Regions from separate parts of the Homo sapiens genome. Here regions 2, 3 and 4 are each linked to region 1. The links come from fine-mapping of genetic effects on gene expression. A gene starts in region 1. Each other region holds a variant in brackets. All regions are shown on one strand. Distances are between the middles of the regions. Region 1 holds the start of AIG1 (androgen induced 1). Region 2 overlaps LINC01277 (long intergenic non-protein coding RNA 1277). Region 3 overlaps AIG1 (androgen induced 1). Region 4 overlaps AIG1 (androgen induced 1).

What was found. PIP is the estimated chance that this variant, and not a neighbour inherited with it, causes the effect. A credible set is the group of variants that fine-mapping cannot tell apart.
Region 2: its variant is the best candidate, but not a certain one, in a credible set for the expression of AIG1 in whole blood (TOPMed, PIP 0.59).
Region 3: its variant is the best candidate, but not a certain one, in a credible set for the expression of AIG1 in esophagus mucosa (GTEx, PIP 0.59).
Region 4: its variant is the best candidate, but not a certain one, in a credible set for the expression of AIG1 in thyroid (GTEx, PIP 0.59).

Annotation. Positions count from the first base shown.
Region 1 is chr6:143,058,271-143,064,097 of GRCh38, forward strand. It overlaps AIG1 (androgen induced 1), which reads left to right and starts at 2,619. Exons shown (of 6, transcript NM_016108.4): 1 at 2,619-2,796. The coding sequence starts at 2,656. RefSeq lists enhancers at 1,615-2,553, 2,379-2,508, 3,109-3,158 and silencers at 2,509-2,598, 2,849-2,918.
Region 2 is chr6:143,003,928-143,009,754 of GRCh38, forward strand. All of the region lies in intron 2 of LINC01277 (long intergenic non-protein coding RNA 1277), which reads right to left. Among named protein-coding and RNA genes, the nearest start is that of LINC01277, 31 kb to the right of the region's middle. RefSeq lists an enhancer at 1-10. The variant G/A (reference allele first, on the strand shown) is at 3,165.
Region 3 is chr6:143,241,337-143,247,163 of GRCh38, forward strand. The region is part of intron 3 of AIG1 (androgen induced 1); the gene reads left to right. Among named protein-coding and RNA genes, the nearest start is that of AIG1, 180 kb to the left of the region's middle. The variant C/T (reference allele first, on the strand shown) is at 2,745.
Region 4 is chr6:143,331,054-143,336,880 of GRCh38, forward strand. It overlaps AIG1 (androgen induced 1), which reads left to right. Exons shown (of 6, transcript NM_016108.4): 5 at 2,229-2,392. Among named protein-coding and RNA genes, the nearest start is that of ADAT2, 120 kb to the right of the region's middle. RefSeq lists an enhancer at 1,914-3,113. The variant C/T (reference allele first, on the strand shown) is at 2,633.

The DNA.
Region 1 (5,827 bases):
TTCCAAAAATTGTGAACTGACATTCTCATAAAATAGTATTTGAGTCAAGTTTTATACAAACGCTTCATTTTTTTAAAGCACAAAACTATCTGATCATGGTTGGCAAATCATGAAAAAACAAAAGCAAACCCAGCAGAATAGGTTCTAAATACTTAATTAAGAGTTATAGTTATTTATTTAAAAGAAACTGGTCGGGCGCAGTGACTCACACCTGTAATCCCAGCACTTTGGGAGGCCGAGGCAGGTGGATCATTTGAAGTCAGGAGTTCAAGACCAACCTGGCCAACATGGTGAAACCCCATCTCTACTAAAGATACAAAAAAAATTAGCCAGGTGTGGTGGCATGCGCCTGTAGTCCCAGCTACTTGGGAGGCTGAGGCAGGAGAATAGTTGAACCCAGGAGGCAGAGGTTGCAGTGAGCTGAGATCATGCCACTGCACTTCCGCCTGGGTGACAGAGCTAGACTCTGTCTCACAAAAAAACAAAAAGAAAAACAAAACAAAAAACCTGACCATTAAAAATGGCTTTATGAAAATATTATTTCATTTTGTAACAATGGGGTTGGGGAGTCTTAATAATTGTCTAACATGTAAAGTAGGAAGGGTATATCAAACTTTGCAAATATCACATTAACTCATAAAACTTTATTAAGGCTCTATTGAGAGGTGAGGCCAGCTGGACCTCCTGAGACAAGTGGGGACTTGGGGAACTTGCCTGTCTTACAAGAGGAGTGTAAAATGCACCAATCAGCGCTCTGTAAAAAGCACCAATCAGCACTCTGTAAAACACACTAATCAGCACTCTGTAAAACGCACCAATCAGCAAGATTTTAAAAGTAGCCAATCGCAGGGAGGACTGAAAAAAGGGCACTCTCATAGGACAGAAACAGAACACTGGAGAGGACAATAAGGGAATAAAAGCTGGCCACCCCAGCCAGCAGCAGCAACCCGCTCCAGTCCCCTTTCATGCTGTGGAAGCTTTGTCCTTTCACTCTTCACAATAAACCTTGCTATCGCTCACTCTGGGTCTGTGCCATCTTTAAGAGCTGTAACACTTACCACCAAGGTCTGCCGCTTCATTCTTGAAGTCACTGAGACCACTAATCTACCGGCAGGAACCAATTCCAGACACATTATTAAGGTAGGTAGATCTTCAATAGATCTACTCTTTTTTATTTTTATTTTTTTGGCAGTTTATAACCATGTACCAAGGATGCACAATTAAAAAAATAAAGCCAACTTTTACATTAAGATTTAACCAAAAATCATCAATAATACATCGTTTTAATGCTAGTAGAATCTTCTTCTGACATCAGTTCTATTAGCATAATTATAATGCCAATTAAAAAAATCTAGTGGGTCTCTTCATTTTAGTTTAGAGCTTGATTGGAAACATTCAGGAAAACATCCATGGCTTGCTTGCTACTTTCTCTTTACCTCTAGCACTATGCTTCTCCCCACCAGCCCTCCCTCCACATCCTCTGACTCAGAGACTATTTGAAGAGGACACCTGTTTTAAATGGATCCACAGGAAATACCTATGTTGCCTTTTCATAATCCGAACCTGCAACTGGTTGGCTGAAATGAAAATGTTGCCCACAGACTGATGCAACTTCAGTGTGACAACATTTACTGGAAGGCAGGAGGGACTCCAGTTTATATTTATTTTCCTTCCATTAAGCCCTGGTAGTGTAGTGTAAGAAAAAAGTAAGGGCAAAACCAGTTTAACAACCAGATGATTAGTATTAAATTACACGCAGGGGTTTTACATCCAAAATTGGAATTTTTTAAAGCTGAATGCAATCTTGTGGCAGAAAGTTATTTGAAAATCCTTTCTTTATAGCTTTTTATCTATAAACCTCTTGTCCAAAGTTCATATTCTAGCTGATGTTATATACTGATATGACATTATTCAATCTGTCATGGAAAAGTGCTGCGTAGCCTACCCATTGAAAGCAGAATTGAGAGAGTTTCCTAGTGATTGACAGTCGTTTGTCAACACTGAAAACCTTATTGCCCCAAAATACTGAAAGTCACTCGCGGCTGCCTGTGCTCGGGTTTACACCCCACGTTCACACCCCCACCGGATCCCTCCGCACGGGGCACCAGCTCTCGGCCAACTGCAACTACCCCAGGAAGCGTCACCGCGATTCCGGGGCGGGAACATTTGTGGACACTGGGGTCCACTCCTTCAGTCTAGGTTCCCCGCCCCCTCGCCCGGCCCGGCGCCCACTAGCCACAGGGCCCGCTTCCCCCTGGAGATCAGCGCGCACTTCCCGAGCCCTCGTAGCACTCAGAGGTCGCATCCACACCTGGGATGCCTAGGGGGCGCCTCCTGGCCGGGTGTCCCGGGACCCTGCGAACGCAGGAGCAGAATGACGAAGGTGACGAAAGAGATGACGACACGCCGCCTGCCAGGCCGCGGCCGGCAGTGGAGAGCGTCCGCAAACCGCGCCCGGCCAGTACAGGTCACCCGGGCGCTCGCGGCCGCGCCAGTCCCCGGGGGCGCGCGCCCCGCCCCCGCCCCCGCCCCCGCCCCGCCCCGCCCCGCGCCCGCGCCCGCGCCCGGGTTCCCACGGCGCCCGCCCCCGCGCGCCCGGCGCCTCCCTCACGCCCGCCCTCCTTGCCGCCCAGCCGGTCCAGGCCTCTGGCGAACATGGCGCTTGTCCCCTGCCAGGTGCTGCGGATGGCAATCCTGCTGTCTTACTGCTCTATCCTGTGTAACTACAAGGCCATCGAAATGCCCTCACACCAGACCTACGGAGGGAGCTGGAAATTCCTGACGTTCATTGATCTGGTAAGGCCGTCCCCTCCCCCTGCTCGCCCCGCACCCCGTGCCTGTGTGTGCGTGTGTGTGTGTGTGTGTGTGTGTGTGTGTGGATGCGCGAGCACCTGCGCACGTGCGCGCCTCCAGCATCCACCCGTGTCCTCGCCTCTTCCCCAGTGATTGCGTGTGAAGGCCTGGCTGCCCCCGCAGCGGCACCTTCTGAACCACTCACCGTTACCTGGTAGCTGGGTACCCTTACCTGGCAACTGGGGGACAAATGGAGGTGGGGCGCAGCCAGGTGGTGGGCTCTTTGGAGGGGGACACCGAACTGCTTCTAAGAGGTGACACGGGAAGAATCTTCAACAAAAGCATCGGACCTGATCCTGAATGGCCTGAGACCCATTCGCCCTCAAGGTGCTTTTCAGAGCACCCACCGTGGGATGAACTTGTTGCAACTGAAGGAAACTGGGTATTGTCTAGTGATTTGGAACTTCACCTGAAAGAACCAAATCCTTCTCATAAGGGAGAGAAAGCACCTAATAAAGTTGTCTTCTTTGCATCTGTTTTTTTCCCCCATTGTCAATAATTTACTTTCAACCTTTACCCCGTACATATTAGGAGACAGAGATGTTCAAAGTGCATTTCCAAGGTGACTGTACACACTTCTCTGTCTTCCCATGTACAAATTTACAGTAGTTTGCATAAGCAGCTCCTCTGTTGGCACAATATGATAATCTTGACAGGTGCAGGTTATTATTAGTATATCATTTTGAAAGTTTTTCTATTTCTGGCACTAAAAGGCCCTCTTCAACCTCCCTGGAGAACAGAACATGGGCATAAGGCCCAATAATGAACTCATGGATGGACCTAGGAATTTCAGGGTAAAGGTGACTAAGACACACGCTAAAAGATTATTAGGAAGAGGCTTAAAACAAAAGCAATGAAGTTCTAAAGCACTCAGAGAAATTGTAGAACCAATTCCTGGGACTCCCTGAACTGTTTATCCAAGACTATACAGTTGGTTGGCTACACCAGCAAGATTATAATCTCTTGTTGACCCTCCATTCTGATGAAGAGAACATGATACCTGTTTTAAAAATTTCCAAAGGCTTAGGATGCCTCAAAGAAATGCAGAGAGGCTTTTGGTTTAAAAATAACACCTTATATTTGCATTATATTAGATACTTTCAGAGTGGAATTTCAATTCTGTTGCCCAGCAGTCTCCAAACTGTGCACATACCCTTAGGCCCACAAGACTTCACAGGGTATAGAATGTTGCAAGGGTTTTAATTTTCAGATCCTCATCTTCCAACTCTGCTTGAAACTAATTTCCCTCTGAACATGCGTGATGCCTGCCAGTTCTCCTTTCATTCTCCCCATTCATCCAAGTGAGGAGCCCGTGACAAGACTCTGAGGTGTGCTTTTCTGTCTGTTCCTTTTAGCTTCCAGAAGATAGATGGTTGTCACCAGGGCTATCTTTATATTTGATTGAACAACAATGTCGGAGTTGCCTTGACAGAAAGTCTTATTGGGTTGATTGGCTTGTCAATGAGGATTGGCTTTGCCAATTATGTTGTGTAGCAGACATTTTCTGTATACTGAATGAGCTAAATCTGCAACCCTGAGGTTCTGATGCATATGTATATGAAGCAAGCATACCACCCATAGAGCGCCAGAAAGATGTCCCTTTTTCAAGTGTTTACACTTAACTATGTTAAGGATGTTGAGATGTTATTTAAAAATATGTGCATAGATTTTCAGAATTCTTTGAGGGGCTATGTGAGCAAAACTCCTTTTGGGACACTGCCTTATCCCATTCCTAAGTCAGATCTTACTTAGAGCTGGCCTATTTGAATGTTGCTAAAGAGCAGTGCTGGGCAAGAATACAGAGATGCTGTGGGAGCCATAGGTTCTAGAAACAGCCCTCAGCATCACTCTTGCAGTAGATGCTGTGTTGTGGGAGCAAGGCAGGGGTCAGCAGGTGAACAGAGGTAGAAATTGAGGGTGTTGGTTAACCCAAGAGATGCCTGCTTTTCATAATTAGCATTGCTTACTGTGCATTGAAAAACAAGGCTCAGAAGAAATGATATACCTCTCATAACCTTTGTGTGACATGAAACCATAGTAGAGTCAGCTTGATATGCTGTCATATAATTTATCTTTTAGCATTCAATGATTGGACTTGCCTGTTTTAAATACTAATCACCATACAGGACTTTTTCTATCCCAGAAGTCAGACAGTAGATTCAAATGTGAAACATTTACTTTGCTTCATATTTAGCTTCAGATTGTATAGGACCTTTAGCCAGCGTTGTAATTTTTTACTCTGTGGCTCCTGATTGAAACATAATAATTATCTTTAACAAAGAGTGCCTGTGAGAAAGTATGTCTGAGATATATTCATAAAAACATTCATGCAAAGTGTTATTCTTTTTATTATTTGAGATTTAGAATCCTTAGAGCTTAAGCATTGTACAGCTGTTAAAACAACCAACCTGTCAATCCTCAGTAATGGCATGAAATGATTAGGCTACTATAATTTAGCCATTTTACTTTTCACTTTTAATGTTAAAAAGACCGTAAACTTTATTACCTAGTGCCTTGTACAATATTAATGAGTCTAAGTTTATTGGAGTAATTTTGCAAGAGTTTAACTTTTTAAAATTGTAATGTGAAGGCCCTTTTTTCTAGCCAACTTGGATTGCAGGAATCATTTATCCTGATAGCCACAGTTGGATTCCATATTCCATGGCTTCAGTTTACCAGGATCTGAGTCAGGAATCTCAGGCTCTATGCATCCAGGAGCAGATGATTATGTGGCAGTGGCCATTCTGGCTGTATTCATTTCTCTCCTTGGGTATGAGGGTCATTCCAGTAGATTCAGAGCTTATGGTCAAAAACTGAAATACACATTGTTGCTACCAGTAATCTTATACTGTTATTCTCCAATGGTTTCTTTTCCTAGTATTGAGAAACTGTAAGAGAACTAAGGTGTTTTTGGAAAATTGAAGTTAGTAAATGGAAAAAGAACACTGTCTTGGTGTGGTAGGCAGAATAATGG
Region 2 (5,827 bases), 54 kb before region 1:
GCAGAAGTAAAATGACAACAACAGCGGCAAAAATAAAAGACAGAGTGGATAATTTGAAAACATTACGTCCATAGTCTAGTTTATTTTAAATCCAAACAAAATTGAAAGCAAGATTTGCTTAGGATAATGTGCAAAATGGATGCACTGTATCCAAAGAATAAAGCACTATTCTATTAGAGTGAGGAACTATATTTGGAAAAGAGTAGTGTTAAAAATAACCCTAAAGGAGGAAGTCAGAAAGGAATCAGAAAGACATTTTACACAGATCAGAAGTGAAGGGTTATCAAAGATAGAAGTCCTAAGACAGCGTATAAGTGTTCTAAAATATTTAGTCTAAGACACATTTAGACAACCTCCTACATCAGGAGTACCCACCTTGTCACTCACCAGACCTATCATCTTAAGAATTATATTATATGCGGTTCGTGCAAAAGTAATTGCTGTTTTGCCATTACTTTTAATATAATATATGTAACATTATATTTATCTATATTTATTATGTATTCATACATACATATTCATAATGATAGATATAGATAAAGGTAGAAAAAGAGATATATTCACTTATAAAAGTAAATCTTGCTACATGTTATTTTTTTTAAATAAATAAATAAAATTAAATCTTTCCAACCTAGGCTATGTTGGGGTGTAACTGGTGTACAGGACAGGCACAGCCCTGCCCTCACAAAGATAGCCAAGTCAGGGAGTCAGGCTGCTAAATGGGCAATAATAACACAGACCCATGCTGGAGCAGTGCATGAGCTGTCAGAGAATCTTGGAAGGGCACTTGTTTGAGTCCTGGATAGTCAGAGGGAGATTCCCAGAGGAAATGATGTCTAAGCAGAGATCCAAAGGATGAGTTGGAATTTGCTGAGGAATGAGGGTGGCAGAGGGGCAGGAAGATTATATCCCATAGAGGTAACAACATTTAGAAAGGCCCGGAGAGGGTAAGGACTCATCAGAGAGACAAGTTCAATGTGACAAGATCAGTGGCATGGAGTGGAGTGGAAGCTACTGAGGTAAATAGGAACCAGATCATAATGAGGTGTCTTAAGGGTTTCTGCATCCTAAAAGCAATGGTGAGATTTTAAAGGGCTTGAGCAGGGAAGCAACGTAAGCAGGTGGAACATCATTCTGGCTACAGTGTGGAGAACGAATTAAAAGAAAGAAAACATATATATTGTTTGTATAGTAATGTATCTATTCAATCATTATATGTTGCTCACCTGCCTTTTCCTATTTTCTAAATCCTATGTCTTAACTGGCCAAGGTGAACCCAACATATCACTGTCTCATAAGCATTTTTAAAAGATATGCCAGTATTTCCTGATTAACATATTAGGAAAGAATGAAACAAGAACTATAGATAATAAGGCAAGATTTTAATTGATAGAGACTCTTGAAGCAATCAGAAAATAATTATAAATGCAAGATAAAGTGTCAGCTCACCTGATAGAGCTAGAGCCTTAAATAATCTTGTATCTATAATATGGGTAACAAAAATTGTAATTCATAAGAGCCCATTTTTAAAGGAATCCTGGGAAGGCCTCACGGAGGAGGTAGAATTTTTGTCTGGGTTGTTTTTAAAGGATAAGTAAGTTTAAGAAACTGAGAATGGGAAGTAGGGTGGAAGGATCTTCCTGAAAAAGGGTCAGGAGAAGACACTATACATACAAAGTGTAAGTTTTCTTTGCATCTGGGGTCACGATGCTGGACAAGTGCAGGACCCTGACTGCCACAACTCATGGCCTCCGGAATGGAGAACAATCAAGTTTTGAAGGAGGAAGGACTTCCAACTCTGCCCTAGGAAATCTAAGCTCCCTGTGACAGGTGGCATAGATTAAAGTCTGAGGACTAGTGGCAGGGAGACCAACCTAGCTTTAACTGTGCAAACACAATGTGAAAAAGGCATCAACTTGGTGGCTCAATGAATATTGGAAGGAAAGGATTTAGAGAGAATGTGAAGTGAGGGAAACTACAAGGAGGGTGAGAGAGAAGAAGCCCTTCTGAATACTTGGGAATGCTAGTTGAAAATGGGCCAGTCAGCCTTGTTCTCATGCAGAAACTATGGGGATCATGCCAAACCAACGCAAATGTCAGCATAAGTATTTGCGTCTACTAGGAATGTGAGTACTAAGTTACCAGCCCTTGTAATAAACACAATTAACAGCATGGAAGCCATTAGACTGGTTCTTGGAAAAGGGCTCATGAGAAACATTTGCTTTGAATACTTGGCTTTAGTGCTGTTAAAAAGCAGAGCAAGAGCCGGGCGTGGTGGCTCATGCCTGTAATCCTAGCACTTTGGGAGGCCAAGGCAGGCAGATCACTTGAGGTCAGGAGTTCAAGACCAGTCTGGCCAACATGGTGAGACCCCATCTCTACTAAAAATACAAAAATTAGCCAGGTGTGGTGGCATGCGCCTGTAATCCTAGCTACTTGGGAGGCTGAGACAGGAGAATCACTTGAACCCAGGAGGCGGAGGTTGCAGTGAGCCGAGATCGTACCACTGCACTCCAGCCTAGGAGATAGGAGACAGAGTGAGACTCCATCTCAAGAAAAAAAAAAAAAAAGCAGAGCTAGAAAGCTAAGTTATTGTTATTTGGCCAGGGGCTTGTTTGTATGAAGTAATAGCAAACAATCTTAATGGTTTTAAATAGCCCTGAACAATTCTCTGATTTTGAGAAAAGCTAGTGAGTACATTGTTGTCTTGATGTAAATTAGCACATGGAGCCACAGACAAAGTTGTTTTCTCCACTTTCTCCTCTGTGGTTTCTGATAATTCTGCACGTGCTTCCCTACCTGTTACCACTGGCCAAGGAAAAGCCAAAGTAATGTGTCCGTTACAGGATTCTCTTCTACATACCTAGAAGCCTTTCTGGAAAAGAGTATTCAGAGAAAAATAAGGACGAAGCAAATCACAGGGCATTACTGGCTGGGAAGCCTTGAAACTTAGTTTCCATACTAACCTTAAGAAACTGTCAATTGAGAGGCAAGTTTCTGAACAAGGTAGTAATAATGAAAATCGCATTTTAATATTTCAGTATAGTTGCTAATACAAGGTAAATGACGGGAGGGAAAGACCACAAGGATTTACAGGAGGTTCTAAGAGGAAGATGTCATTGTGAATAAAATAGAAAATGAGTGGAGTTTGAGGTTTTTTTGGC[G/A]CCTAGAAAAAGAGAAAAGAAATGGTTACAAAAGGTGTCTTAGGTAAAGAGACACCATTAGTTGAAGCTGGGCCATGTATGGGAATGCAGGGCAGGGATGAGAGGTGTGAAGACACAGGAGCTACCACAGAACAGAGTAGTGTTAATCCTGGTAATTCTCATCCACACCAGTACAGGTAGATAAAATTTAGAGATGAAAGGCCACCGTATTTAACCAGAAGAAATCACTGTTACTTTCAAATGGATAGCCAATTTGAGGAGAGTCTAAAGGGGGGTGGGGGGAAATGTTAATAGAAAGCAAAAGGATAATGAGATTACAAATAAAGATATGATGAAGGTGTGGGATTTGAAGGAAGAAAGCAACAAAATATGGCTGGACCTCAGAAGATAGTGAGGTATGTAGATGAAGGATAAATCTGATTTCAAAACCATGAGCAAAGGCCAGAATAGCTCTGGTGGTTTAACGCCCAGTGCTTTTTATTGCTTTATGAAATACAAATTGTGAAGCCTTAAAATTGTATTGCGCATAGCGAAACGTAGGGGGAGTCACCTCGGCCCACAGCCCCTCTGTCTTGTTAGTTGTTGTTGTCCCATCCATGAGAAGGACAAAGCGGTGCCATGAACACAGGGGAAGAGGAGAGACCCAGGGATGAAAGCCAGGACAGGAAAGATGAACTCAGTAATAGGAACAATGAGGAAACAGTGTGGGGAGGGAATAAACATTTATTTCCTAATACAAACCAGATGCTCTAAATATATTATCTCATTCAACCTTCACCACAGCCACGAGGAGCAGATAGATGATTGAAGAAACACGAGGTTGAGGAACTTGCCCAAGAACACAGAACTGCATTGAAGTTGAGACTCCATTCAGAACCTAATAACACAACATTCTTCTCCTCGAGATGGGAAAAATAGCACTTGTAGGATAGAAGAAACAAGAAGTTGAAAACTGAAGATGAAAGTTATTACACAGAAAAAAAAATCATAGAAACAGAATGTTGAAAACATATTAAGCCACTAGTATTCAACGTCAAGGGTGTTATTGGACTGTTATGGAAACGCCCTGGACTATTAAGATAACTATTTAAGAAAAGCTAATTTTCACACATGGAATGATCGGAAGAAACTTGTACAATCAACTGAGACATCCGATGAAAACCGTAAATAACGAGGAGAATGTCCTCTTTCCTCTGGCATAAAAATATTGCCAGATTGTGGCGACAGTTCAAAAATTTTATGAAGGAGACCCCCCCCAACCCAGCCCTGGAGAAAAGTCATCCTTCCTTTTCTTTCCCCCAGCTCCTTCTCTCAGCCAGCCCTTTCTCAGCCACTCTGATTTTGGGAAATAAAAACGGCAGGAAATTCAGTATTTGCTCTCGGCATCACTTCCTCTCTTTCCAAGCCGCCCCCCACATTTCCCATTCAATCTATGAATTATAATGTGTATCCCCATCTCATGTCCTTGAGAAAGGCTTTCAAATAAAACAAGTACTACCTGTTTTGATAAAAGTATCTCCTTCAAAAGTTATTTTCTTAAATGTCATTACCTTAAGTCTACATAGGATAAATAAATCAATAAAACACAAAATGTCTCTTCCCTGGACAAAAAAATTCTGAAAATTGTTTATTTCATGAGAAATGCATGACAGATGGTATGAGTAGTGGTGAGGCGTTCAAAACAGAACAAAGTTTCCTACTGTTCTGTCAGATGTTTCCACTCTCTGTTCCATCCATTAAACGCTGACTTATTTTTCTTCCACAAATTCAGTTTGGCTTCTAAAAAAAAAATAAATAATGCTTTGGGTATTCATTTAAGATTTTCTTATACCTTTACTGGAAACCTCAATCTGAAATGTAACCTTCACACCGCAGGGATTAAGTGGCTGGAAGCATCTGTGATAACTATCGCAGCACATAAAAAATGATGCTTATTGTTCAAGGGAGCACTCAATTACCTATGATCACTCAGATTATTAAACTGGATGCGTAGAGTGGTACATAAGTAATATTTAAATGTTTCATGGGCTGGGCATGGTGGCTCACACCTGTAATCCTAATACTTTGGGAGGCCTAGGTGGGTGGATCACTTGAGGTCAGGAGTTCCAGACCAGCCTGGCCAACATGGTAAAATCCTGTCTCTACAAAAAATACAAAAATTAGCCAGGCATGGTGGCAGGCGCCTGTAATCCCAGCTATTCGGGAGGCTGAGGCTCGAGAATTGGTTGAACATGGGAGGCGGAGGTTTCAGTGAGCAGAAATGGAGCCCCTGCACTCCAGCCTGGGGGACAGAGCAAGATGCTGACTCAAATAAATAAATAAATAAATAAGTTTCAGGAAAGAAGGTTACTGTTAAAATCCCAAATGTTCAATTTGTTAGTAATGGGTTTGCTAAAACAATACCCATATTGCCTCAAGGATGGTTCTACGAAGCTTGTCTAACCCACAGTCCACGGGCCTCATGTGGCCCAAGACAGCTTTAAATACAGCCCAACACAAACATTTCATAAACTTTCTTAAAACATTTTGAGGTTTTTTTGCAATTATTATTTTTTTTTAGCTCATAAGCTATTGTTAGTCTTAGTGTATTTTATGTGTGGCCCAAGACAATTCTTCTTCTTCCAATGTGGCTCAGAGAAGCTAAAAGATTGGACACCCCTGTT
Region 3 (5,827 bases), 180 kb after region 1:
CGTGGAGCCCTTTTGCCCCTTGGCCTGTATCCCTGACTCAAACCAGACTTTCCTGACAACTTTTCCCTCAGGTCCAAACTCAGACTTGGCTGTCATCATCTTGCCACTTCTGGGATGAAGCATTAAGAGACAGAAAGAAAGTAGCTAGGGAAAGAGTTCATTTCCATGCCGCTCTACTGTTAAACTTCCTATCAAAAGCTTCACTTTGTACTTCATTTTATTTAACAAATACTTCCACTGTGCTCACTGTGTGTCAGGCACTGTTCTAAGGAATTTGCAAACATCAACTCATTATAATACTCAGGAAAACCCTGTGGGTGGGTTCTGTTTTTCTCCCTATTTTATAGGTGAGGGAACTGAAGCACAGAGCATTTAAGCAATGCAAGTCGAGCATCCCTAATCTGAAAACCTAAAATCTGAAATGCTCGCTCCCAAACCCAAAACTTTTTGAGAACTGATAAGACACCCCAAGTGGAAAACTTCACATGGAGATACCTAACACAAACTTTGTTTTATGCACAAAATTGTTTAAAATATCATGTAAAGTTACCTTCAGGCTGTGTGTATAAGGCATATGTAAAAAATAAATGAATTTCATGTTTAGATTTGGGTCCCATCGCCAAGATATTAGGTGTATGTAAATATTCCAAAATTCAAACTGCTTATGGTCCCAAGCATTTTGGATAAGGGATACTCAACCTGTGTATCCCTAAGTCACACAGCTGTGTTTTGATCTCTGTCGACACGTCTCCCCCTCCAGGATAAAGAGGAAAAGCAGTAGGGAGAAGGGCTTAGAATGAGCACGAGCAATAGCAATGTAAGGAGAAGTTATCCTCAGGCCAGGAGAAGCAAGAACGCAGCCAAATTTCAGAAACAACAAGGGATTCTAGTCACTGGCAAGAGAAAACAAACTGAAGACTGAGTGGCAGGGTTGCTGTGTAATATGAGGAAAATAGAACCCAAGCCACTATATTTCATGACCAAGCTCAAATTAGCGGACGTGATAACCCTTCTATAATAACAACCATAATAATAAAATAGCTATGCTTTTTGAAACTCTACTGTATGGCAGTTTTTATATGTAACTTTGTTTAATCCCCACAACTATATGGGGAAGGGGGCATTATCCCCATTTTTCAGATGAAAAAGTTAATCAAAGTACAAAGAGGTAAAATCACATGACCATAATCTCACAGCTAGTTATTGGCAGAGCCAGTATCGACATCCATTTCTGTCTAACTCTAAACCATGGGTTGTTTTGATGCAGCCACGTTGTTAGAGTTAGTGACCCAGTGCCATTATAGGGGTGCTTAGGAGAATCCTAAATCCATATGCTGAGTCACCACATGCCCAAGAAGTCTCAGAAAGATGGCACCTACAGATAAACCTAAATTAGTTTTTTTAAGCTTGGAAAATCCAAGAAAGATAAACTTAGCACCCATTAGCCTGACACAAAACACTTCCATTTTTTACAAATAGTAATGTTTCATGCATCTCTGCAGGAAGTGCATGCGACATCATGGCTGCGGATATGCCCCCATGGAGAGCCCTTGCTGGTCCTGGGGTATTTGTCTCTCTTATCCCAGGTTGCGTGTGGTTGTAGAAGGTGAAGTGCTGTTACTGAGACTAGCGCCTATCTGATGGCCTATATGAATGACCCACTAGAGTTATTGGGTTCTGCCAACATTATTTCCATCCTAGATCTACAAAATGTTTGTGGGCAGATAGAGCTGGTTCCTGAGATCAGGCTAGACGGTGTTTTTCATACTCCACAAGGCTTATATAAATTCACTATCTTCCTTTTAGAAAAAAATCCTTGGTCCAACTTCTTTTCAGTACTTGATAAATAATCAGTTGATGATGTGGGAACATTTGCAGCTGGGTATGTAGGTGCTAAAGCCTTATTACATGCAGAGTTGGAATTATAATAAGACATTCACCACTTATCTAAAACAATTCAAGAGGACAATAAAAGATAAATAATTCTAGAATGCATCATCAGGAGTGATATTCTTTCTATGCCAAATGAGATTATGAAAATAACACTAATAGAAGTTTCAAAAAAAGGAAGCCTGTACATTCTTGGAATTAGCAAGGTGCTTCCCATAATTATACACTTGCTTGGAACCCTAGCCTTTTATTTTTTTCATTGAATAGCCTCCCAGTTAAAAATAACCCAATAAAGTATCATAGACTACAAAATGCCCGGAATCTTTTTACCAGGTGACATCTCATCTTTCAAGATATCTGATCTTAAGTCACCCCAAATTAACTTGTACATTTTATTTGGCAGTAGACAGTGGTAACATAGGTATTGTTAAAGTATTGATATAGGACAGTGGAGGAAGGAGACTTTCGATGAATTGATCAAGAAGAAAAAGAACTCTGTGTTGCCACCTGGTTATGGTTCAGAAGTATTGCCCTGAACTGCCATACTACCACTGAGGGTGAAATAGGAAAACATATCCCAACATTATCAAGCACACACCTCTATGGGAAGACTGCATATGTGGCACTCATACCTCATCTCCCCTCCTGCTGCCAATACAGACATAGCTAATCCATCACAACACTCTTTCCTGCCAGGCCTAGATTTGCCATCAAAATCCTTCTCACCTCAGTGCTTCAGGCAGGTCCTTTCAAGCCATGACAGCTGGGTCATGAGTTGAAACCTGTTTACTTTCTATGATCAGCACTAGTAACGCAAAGATGAGTACACATGACACCTGCCCTCAAATAGCTGG[C/T]AGATTATTGAGGGAATCATACCCAGCAGCAGTTATAATATTGTGAGATAAAATGATAGAATGTATATGTTAAATGGTACTGGAAGACAGAAGGAGGAATAACTATTCCTGAAGGAGGTAAGGAGTGTTTCCCGGAGGAAATGAACACAGACGAGATTGGCAGGATGTGGGAGTTCCCTTATCAATCAAGGTAGACAAGGGGTGGAGGTAAATGGCATGGACTTTGCAGGTGCTTCCCCAGCCTAGGGGCTGAGTGGAGGAATAGCAAGAGGTTGGGGGGCAGCCTCAGGTCAAGACCTTGACCTCTTTGATTGCTAGGTAAGATGTTAAGGGTTTTTCTTGCAGAAAAAATCCCAGTCTAAGGTATGTAAACCCCTTGGGGGCCATGAGATTATTCCAAGGGCTGCATGAATTCACAGCACACTGAGTAGGCTCTGATAACGTACTAAATGGATCACATGGGTATGGGCTTTAATAATGTCACTGCTGAGAATGCACTATATACTTGTAGCAGATGATATAGCAAAGAGAAGGCTTTCACCTTCAATGGTTTGCTCTGAAGTTTCATAAACAAAACACTGTGAGCATCAAGGTATAGTCTGGAGAGCTGATTTAACTGCAAAGAGGTGCTGTCTGTGCAGGCTCTTTAGAGAAATCTTGGGATCTCAGTGTCTTATCAGGTGTTTTGTGATATGTTACAATATCAAGTTAATTCCTCTTTTTTTGAAAAATGTATAAATTCAGCTTGGGGTTCACAAGCTCCAAGCTATGTTACCACTAAAGCCTTTCTCACAACCCAAAGCACTTGAACTTACCTTCACTCTCTGAGAGGTCATTATATTTAAATAGCTACTCTAAGAAGGAAATATGCTCAGTCCTTCATTTGAACAACAGTTTAACCTTCAAAGTAGAAAAACAAAACAAATCTGTAATATCCCTGTCACTAAATCAGCATCATTAAGGATCAGCAGCCATTGTCTCTTTTAGTTGGAGAACGGTGGGTCACCCATCTCGAAGCCCAGTTAATGAACAAGGGTTTATTCAGTAAAACATTGAACATTACCCAAGTTAATATTATAATAATCTCTTATATTAGTAGAGTATAGTTGGCAAAACACTTTCTCTCACATACATTATATCATTTGATGCTTACAATAACCATTCAAGGTAGATGGAAGGTATTATTCAGTTTATTTCAGTGGAAAGTCCTACCACTATCCAAAGTCTGAATTTCTTTTTTAACAAATACAGAAGTATACAAAAAGAAAAAGCAACACAGCTTCCAGAGAAGATTTTGAGTGTGTAGAGTTTCATGGTGATTTGATTTTTTCCCCTGAGGCTCTGCACTAAATTTACTGCTTCTTTCATTTTATTGATACCATAATGGAATTTGATACACTCTAATTCAGAAACTGAAATGTTTATTCATTTCATATGTCAGTACAAAAATCCAATCAAGAATAAATATTGCCCCTCCCAAAGCTACAGTCATACAGAATGATAATTGCTTTGAAAAGAAATAAACAAGTTTGGGATGAGGGTGCTGAAGCAGTCCCAAAAGTGGGGCTCTTCATCCAGCTTTTTCCTACAGAATCATTTCAGTGTTTCTATCCTGTAAGGAAAAACACTGGAAACTTGATGTTTTTTGCTCTCATTTATTGAACACTTTCCTTGGGAGCCTGCAAACATCATCTGTAATCCTTACAGCAACGCATAGTTGGTGAATTCCTTCAGCAGAGGTATTTTATGAGGCGGTATAGCTTATCAGCTAAAAGCAGAGGCTTTCAAGACATATGGGTGTGTGTTCAGGTCACAAAGATCGGGGTTTAGGGCACGGTTGTCCCATCTTTTGGCTTCCCTGGGCCACATTGGAAGAAGAATTGTCTTGGGCCGCACATAAAATACACTAACACTAACAATAGCTGTTGAGCTTAAAAAAAAGTTGCAAAACAAATCTCCTCACGTTTTAAGAAAGTTTAGAAATTCGCTTTGGGTCACATTCAAAGCCATCCTGGGCTGCAGGTGGGACAAGCTTGGTTTAGGGCCTCACTTCTGCTCCTAATTGACTCAACTTAGGTAAACTACCGAAGCCCTCTAAGTTTCATTCAGTTTCCTCTTACAGTTAATTAGGAATTGTATTCATTTGTTTTCACACTGCTGATAAAGACATACCTGAGACTGGGCAATTTACAAAAAAAAAAAAGAGGTTTAATGGACTTACAGTTCCACGTGGCTAGGAAGGCCTCACAATCATCGTGGAAGGCAAGGAGGAGCAAGTCACATCTTACATGGGTGGCAGCAGGCAAAAAGAGAGCCTGTGCAGGGAAACTCCCCCTTATAAACCCATCAGATCTCATGAGACCCATTCACTATCACAAGAACAGCACAGGAAAGACCTGCCCCCATGATTCAATCACCTCCCACTGGGTCCCTCCCACAACACATGGCAATTTAAGATGAGATTTAGGTGGAGACACAGCCAAACCACATCAGGAATTAAATGAGACAATCTGCTTGAGCCATTCACCACAGAAATTTGCATTGAATGATAAGTAAATGTTTGTGTGTGGAGTTCATAAAATAATAGCCAACATTTACTGAGCACTTACATACCGTGTAATGTTCTGTGTGTTTTACATATAAAAACTCATGTAATCCTCTTGACAGCCAGTGAGAGAATGCAAAAGGTTTAGCCAACTATGAACAAAAGAACTAACTGTGAAATTAGAAGGAATAATGTCCTCATTTCACACCAATTGCTAGTTCAGGGGTTCCCAAAACACTCTCGGCTTCAAAAATAGAACAGAAAAAAAGGACTCACAGAACCCACTGGAAGCTGTTATATTCATGGCTATGGTTTATGACAGGAAAAGGATACAGAATAATGTCAGCCAAGGGAAGAGGCTCATACAGCAGAGCCTGGAAGGGGCTCAGATGTGCTTCCAGTTGTTCTGTCCCCATGGAGTTATAGGGCATTAACTCCTCTCTGTGATGCTGTGTGATAATATGGATGAAATATTGTCAACCAGGGAAGCTCACCTGGGCTTTGGTGTCCAAGATTTTTTTTTTTTAGACAGCATCTC
Region 4 (5,827 bases), 270 kb after region 1:
AGACCTAGAGAATGCCTCTTTGCTGTAAGATTGTTCCTCAATCTTTCTTTCATTACTACTTCCCTCTACCAAGGAACCTTTGTAGACCTGTTTTTTTTTTCCTAATTTCCACCACAGGAACATTTTTTATTGTGCTAAAATATACATAACATAATATTTGTCATTTTAGCTATTTGCAAGTATACTATTTAATGTCCTTAAATGTATTTACAACATTGTGTAACCATCACCAGTATCTATACCCAAAATTTTCTCATCATCCCCCCACATAAACTCTGTTCCCGTTAAACAATAACTCCCTATTCTCCACTCCCCCGAGTCCCTGGTAACTGATAGATACCATGCTTTCTGTCTCTGTGAAATTGCCTATTCTAGGTACCTCATATAAGTGGAATCATATACAATATGTGACCTGTGTCTGGCTTATTTTGCTTAGCATAATGTTTTCAAGGTCCATCCATGTTGTAGCATGTATCAACATTTTACTCCTCTTTATGGCTGAGTAATATTCCATTGCATGCATATGCCACATTTGATTGTTTGTTCACCTACTGATGTGTTTCTATATACATATATGTACATCTGTGTGTGTGTATATATGTGTGTGTGTATATGTGTGTGTGTGTGTATCTGTGCTTTCTACATAAAAAGTGCAAAATTGTTTTACCACCAACCCCAGAATGAATTTTCGCCTGCAAGAAGAGGGGGGATCTCACCCTCATTGATAACGCAGGTTCTCAGGTATAGATCCCCAGGTTTCCTGCCAAAAATGAGGTACATGTGTAGGTAATGTTTATTATTATTATTATTATTATTATTATTATTATTATTATTTTGAGACCAAGTCTCACTTTGTCACCCAGGCTGGAGTGCAGTGGTGTGATCTCAGCTCACTGCAACCTCTGCCTCCCAGGGTCAAGTGATGCTTGTGCCTCAGCCTCCCGAGTAGCTGGGATTACAGGCGCGCACCACCACGCCCAGCTAATTTTTGTATTTTTAATAGAGATGGGGTTTCGCCATGTTGGCCAGGCTGGTCTTGAACTCCTGACCTCAGGTGACCCACCCTCCTCAGCCTCCGAAAGTGCTGAGATTACAGATGTGAGCCACTGCACCCTGTCAGTAATATTTATATGTAGATAAACCACTTAGAGTGAAGCCAAGGATAAGGAAAATGACCTCAGAACACATAAGTATGAAAAGTCATCTTTATTCCCAATGCAATAGAGTTATCTGTATTTTATTTAGTCTTCACAATTGCCAACAGTTTATAAAGGAATGAACTCAAGAATGTTTGGAAAACAGCTGTAAGCAGTCATGTCAGGACCAAGCCAATGGAGCCGATATTCTAACTAAACTTTTGAAAGCAGTGGCAATTCATGATGTTACTATTCCCACTGAGTCAAAAATATTTCTGGAACACAAAGAGAATGATTAAGTAAGAATGTAAAATAGGAAAAAAAATGAAATCAATGTCACATCTGAAGATCAGAGGAGTGGGAAGCTGGTACCTGCTAGGGTATGCATGGTTGTGTCAGCATATGGCATGAGTGTTGGTGTCTAGTTGGAAGGCCATATGGCAAGGTATCTGGCACAGACTCACCTAGGTCTTATTCTCCTGTGGTTGCCCAATGCCATATTGTCTCATTCTGTAAAGAAGAGATTTAAAAGATTGTTGAACAGTGTTAATAAAGTCAGCCATTTCAAATACATGACCAGATTGTTTAACAGTGTTAATAAAGTCAGCCATTTCAAATACCCTTCAAATATCATCAAAGACAAGTAGAGACTGAGAAACTGCCAGAGTATGAGACTGCGGAGATGTGAAGACTGAAGACCACATGGGGTCCTGGATTGGATCCTGGAACAGAGAAAGGACATTCACAGGAATACTGGGAAATTCTGAATAAAGCCTATAATTTAGTACTGTCATATCAATGTTAATTTTTTAATTTTAGTCAATTGTCCCAGGATTATACAAGATGTTAACATGAGGGGAAGCTGAGTGTGTTGTGCTTCTTCTGTGAGTCTAAAATTATTTCAGAATAAAAAGTAAATGAAAATAAACAGCAACCAAGTTTCCAGTAGCTCCTGAGTATCAGAAGCGAACTTGAGACTGGCAAATGCTGAAGCATGGGGAGAGTGAGGGAGTGTATATTTGCATCATAGCAGCTTTGATGCCTGCCATAAGAGTGACTCCTGTCCTTGTCTCCTTTCCGATTCTTTTGCAGGGTGTGCTGGGTGCATCATGTAACTGGCATGTGGGTGTACCCTTTCCTGGAACACATTGGCCCAGGAGCCAGAATCATCTTCTTTGGGTCTACAACCATCTTAATGAACTTCCTGTACCTGCTGGGAGAAGTTCTGAACAACTATATCTGGGATACACAGAAAAGTAAGTATTGTCTGAGGGAACATAAAACAAGAGAATTACTGCCGGCAACAGTCTATGCAGAGACTGAGGGAAAATTCCACTGTAGCCTCTTCTTTTAGCCTTCACACAGGATCTCCTATAAAGAGCTCCATTTTTAAAACTACAATATGAATTTAAGAGCTGCTGACAGTTACCTGAAAGTTTTACTAGTCACTTGGTCTTGTTAGCTAGTAAAACCTCCAAATCTAAAGAGGAAAGAGG[C/T]ATGTCTATAAAATTTTATAGGGAAAAATGTAGTGTTAGCAAAAAATATATATTAGGGAAATTTGTCCTCATTAACAACACAATGCTGCCTTAGTTAGCTAAAGGGACCTCAAATTAAATAGATACATTATTAAATGTAACCAATCTCCTTTAAAGTCACCCAGATCTCCACTTTCTATGTGGGTGCAGTCACCTGGGAGAGGTCTTACTACCATTCTGCTAGAGCTCTATCTAAGCAGTGTGTGATGCTCCGGCCACCTTGACTCACCAGTGGCTGTCACGGAAAGTCTGAAAGTGGCAAAGAGCTACAAGCAGTAAAAGATAATATTTCGTGGCTGGAAAAACTCTTTTAACCTGTGATTTGATTTCTCTTTTGTTTCCATTTATGGCAGAGCCTCCATCTTGGCAAGGCACGTAATCTTATCCAAGCTGTGCAAAACCTGTCCAAAGTGTATGTACAATAACATAAAAATTGAAAGGTGGAAAAAGCGCCAGCACAGACATGTAGTGATTGAGTCCTGCATGAAAATACATCCAAAGGCAAGATGGTTTGGAGATTTTAGGAAGCCCTGGCTCTTTCCTCTGACACAATCACAGCATTCTAGACATCCCCAGTAAATGGACTCTGTGACACAGACATTGAGCACCCTGCTTTGTGCCAGACACCCTGCCAGGAGCTCAATGGAATCAGACAAATAACGCACAGTGAGTGCATGGTTACTGTGCATGGTTACTGAATCAGACTTTTGTGTGTGTGGATCCTCTAAGATTGTATGTGTCAGGGTATTAGCCAATGTTAAATGGCGCAGAGGAATTTGAGGGTTTCTTTTCTCATCAGCTTTTGATTTTAATCAATGTTCTATTAGAAAAAGTATCAACATTTTTAATTCTGTTCAGGCCACAGCTTGGGGAACAAGACACTAATCTTTTAATAATGTTCCACCTGTTCAATGGAAATAGTGATCTTTCTCCATTAATTTACAGAAGTATTTAGTTACTTGACAAAAATATTTTGAGAACAAAATATAAACCTTTCTCAGCTTCTTGGAAGAAAAACTGTATTTAAACTTAAACGAATGTGTCCAATATATGTTATTCAGGAAGTACTTAAGTACCTGCTTACACTTGACTTGATTGATTTGACAGTCATTTGGCCACAGTTCTACTACTTCTATGAGAGGATGACCTGAAAACCACTAGAGAGAAATATCCACTCTACATTAATAGAATACTGCTTTTTAGCAGCTTTGAATGAGGAGTTAAAAATGAATAATGAAATTAAGGTTTTTTGAATGATTTGTTTAATTTATGCCATTCTTTTAAGTAACATAAGATTGACTAACTTTTTTTAAAAATTCATTTTAGATATGAAAATTAAGTTTATGTACCTAGGACCATCTAGTTAGTTCCACAAAGACAGATGTTTTGTGCCAAGTAAGTATCATCCTCATTTACAAGAGGGGTCACAAACTGCTGGCCTCCCCCAACTTCTACCTATCAAGTTCTGTTAGGCCTACATCGTGGAATTTTTGTTTTTGAATCAGTATTTTAAAATTGGGTGATTTTGGCTGGGCGCAGTGGCTCATGCCTGTAATCCCGGCACTTTGGGAGACTGAGGCAGGTGGATCACGAGGTCAAGAGATGGAGACCATCCTGGCCAACATGGTGAAATCCCATCTCTACTAAAAATACAAAAATTAGCCAGGCATGGTGGCGTGTGCCTGTAGTCCCAGGTACTCGGGAGGCTGAGGCAGGAGAACTGCTTGAACCCAGGAGGCAGAGGTTGCAGTGAGCTGAGATCATGCCACTGCACCCCAGCCTGGCAACAGAACAAGACTCCATCTCAAAAAAAAAAAAAAAAAAAATAGGAGATTTCACATGAAGGCCAGATTTTCAGCTTCTTAGGAAATATTTTAAGATCTGGAACACAGAGCCCACTGTTCTATTCTGGTGACAATGGTTTAGAATAGAGTATCAGTTATCCCTTGGCTGGGCACGGTGGCTTACACCTGTAATCTCAGAACTTTGGGAGGCTAAGGTGGGCAGATCACTTGAGCCCAGGAGTTCAAGACCAGTCTGGCCAACATTGCAAAACTCCATCTCTACTAAACATACAAAAATGAGCCGGGCGTACATGCCTGTAATCTCAGCTACTTGGGAGGCTAAGGCACGAGAATCGCTTCAACCTGGAGGCAGAGGTTGCAGTGAGCCAAGATCGTGCCACCACACTCCATCCTGAGCCACAGAGTGAAACTCTCAGAAAAAAAAAAAAAAAACAGAAAGAAAAGAAAAAAGAATTGAGTATCAGTTATCCACTTTAGATGACTAACTTTCCCTCGTTCTCACCTGGCCACTTTACTCAGTCACATTAGCTGCCTGATTCTGTTAGCTGTTGAGTCAAAAACTACTCACTAAAAGCAGTGTGTTAGGATGAATTGAGGACATGGGAGTACAGTACTACAATCCTGAGTATTTCACATCAGTTACTATACAATCCCCCAAGAAGAAGGAAGATTGCATTGGAGCCACCCTCCTTTTTCCATAATGGTTTTTAATAGCTCAACTCTGTCTACTTGGGTAACTTATGTTAGCTACAACTTCAAGATAAAAATCACATTATTGCAGAATCTTACTGCTGAAAGAGAGATTGGAAATCATCGAAACCGACCCTTTCCTTTCACCAAAAGTAACTGAGGCCCCAAAATCTTAAGTGACCCTCCAGAACAGGTGATGGCAGAGCCAGTGCCTTCTAACTGATGTTCAGTCCAGTCTCCAAATTTCCCCTTTGTATAAGAATACCAGTTGTATTTGATTAGGGCCCACCCTGATGACCTCATTTGTAAATACTTATCTCCAAGTAAAGTCACATTCTGACTTTAAAACCACATCCTGGGGGTTAGGATTTCAGCATATGAATTTGGAAGTGGGGGACAGAGTTCAGCTCATAATACTTCACTCTCTCCCCACCAGAATACATGTCCTTCACCCAATGAAAATATTCCATCCCAACAACCCCAAACGTCTTTCAGACATCAACTCTCAAGTCCAAAATCTCATCTTAAATATCATAAAATTGGGTATGCGTGACACTCAGGGTATGAGTCATCCTGAAGCAAAATTGTTCTCTAGCTGTGTGTGAACCTGGGAAACCAGACAAAAAGTTATCTGCTTCCAAAACAGAATGGTGGGACAGGC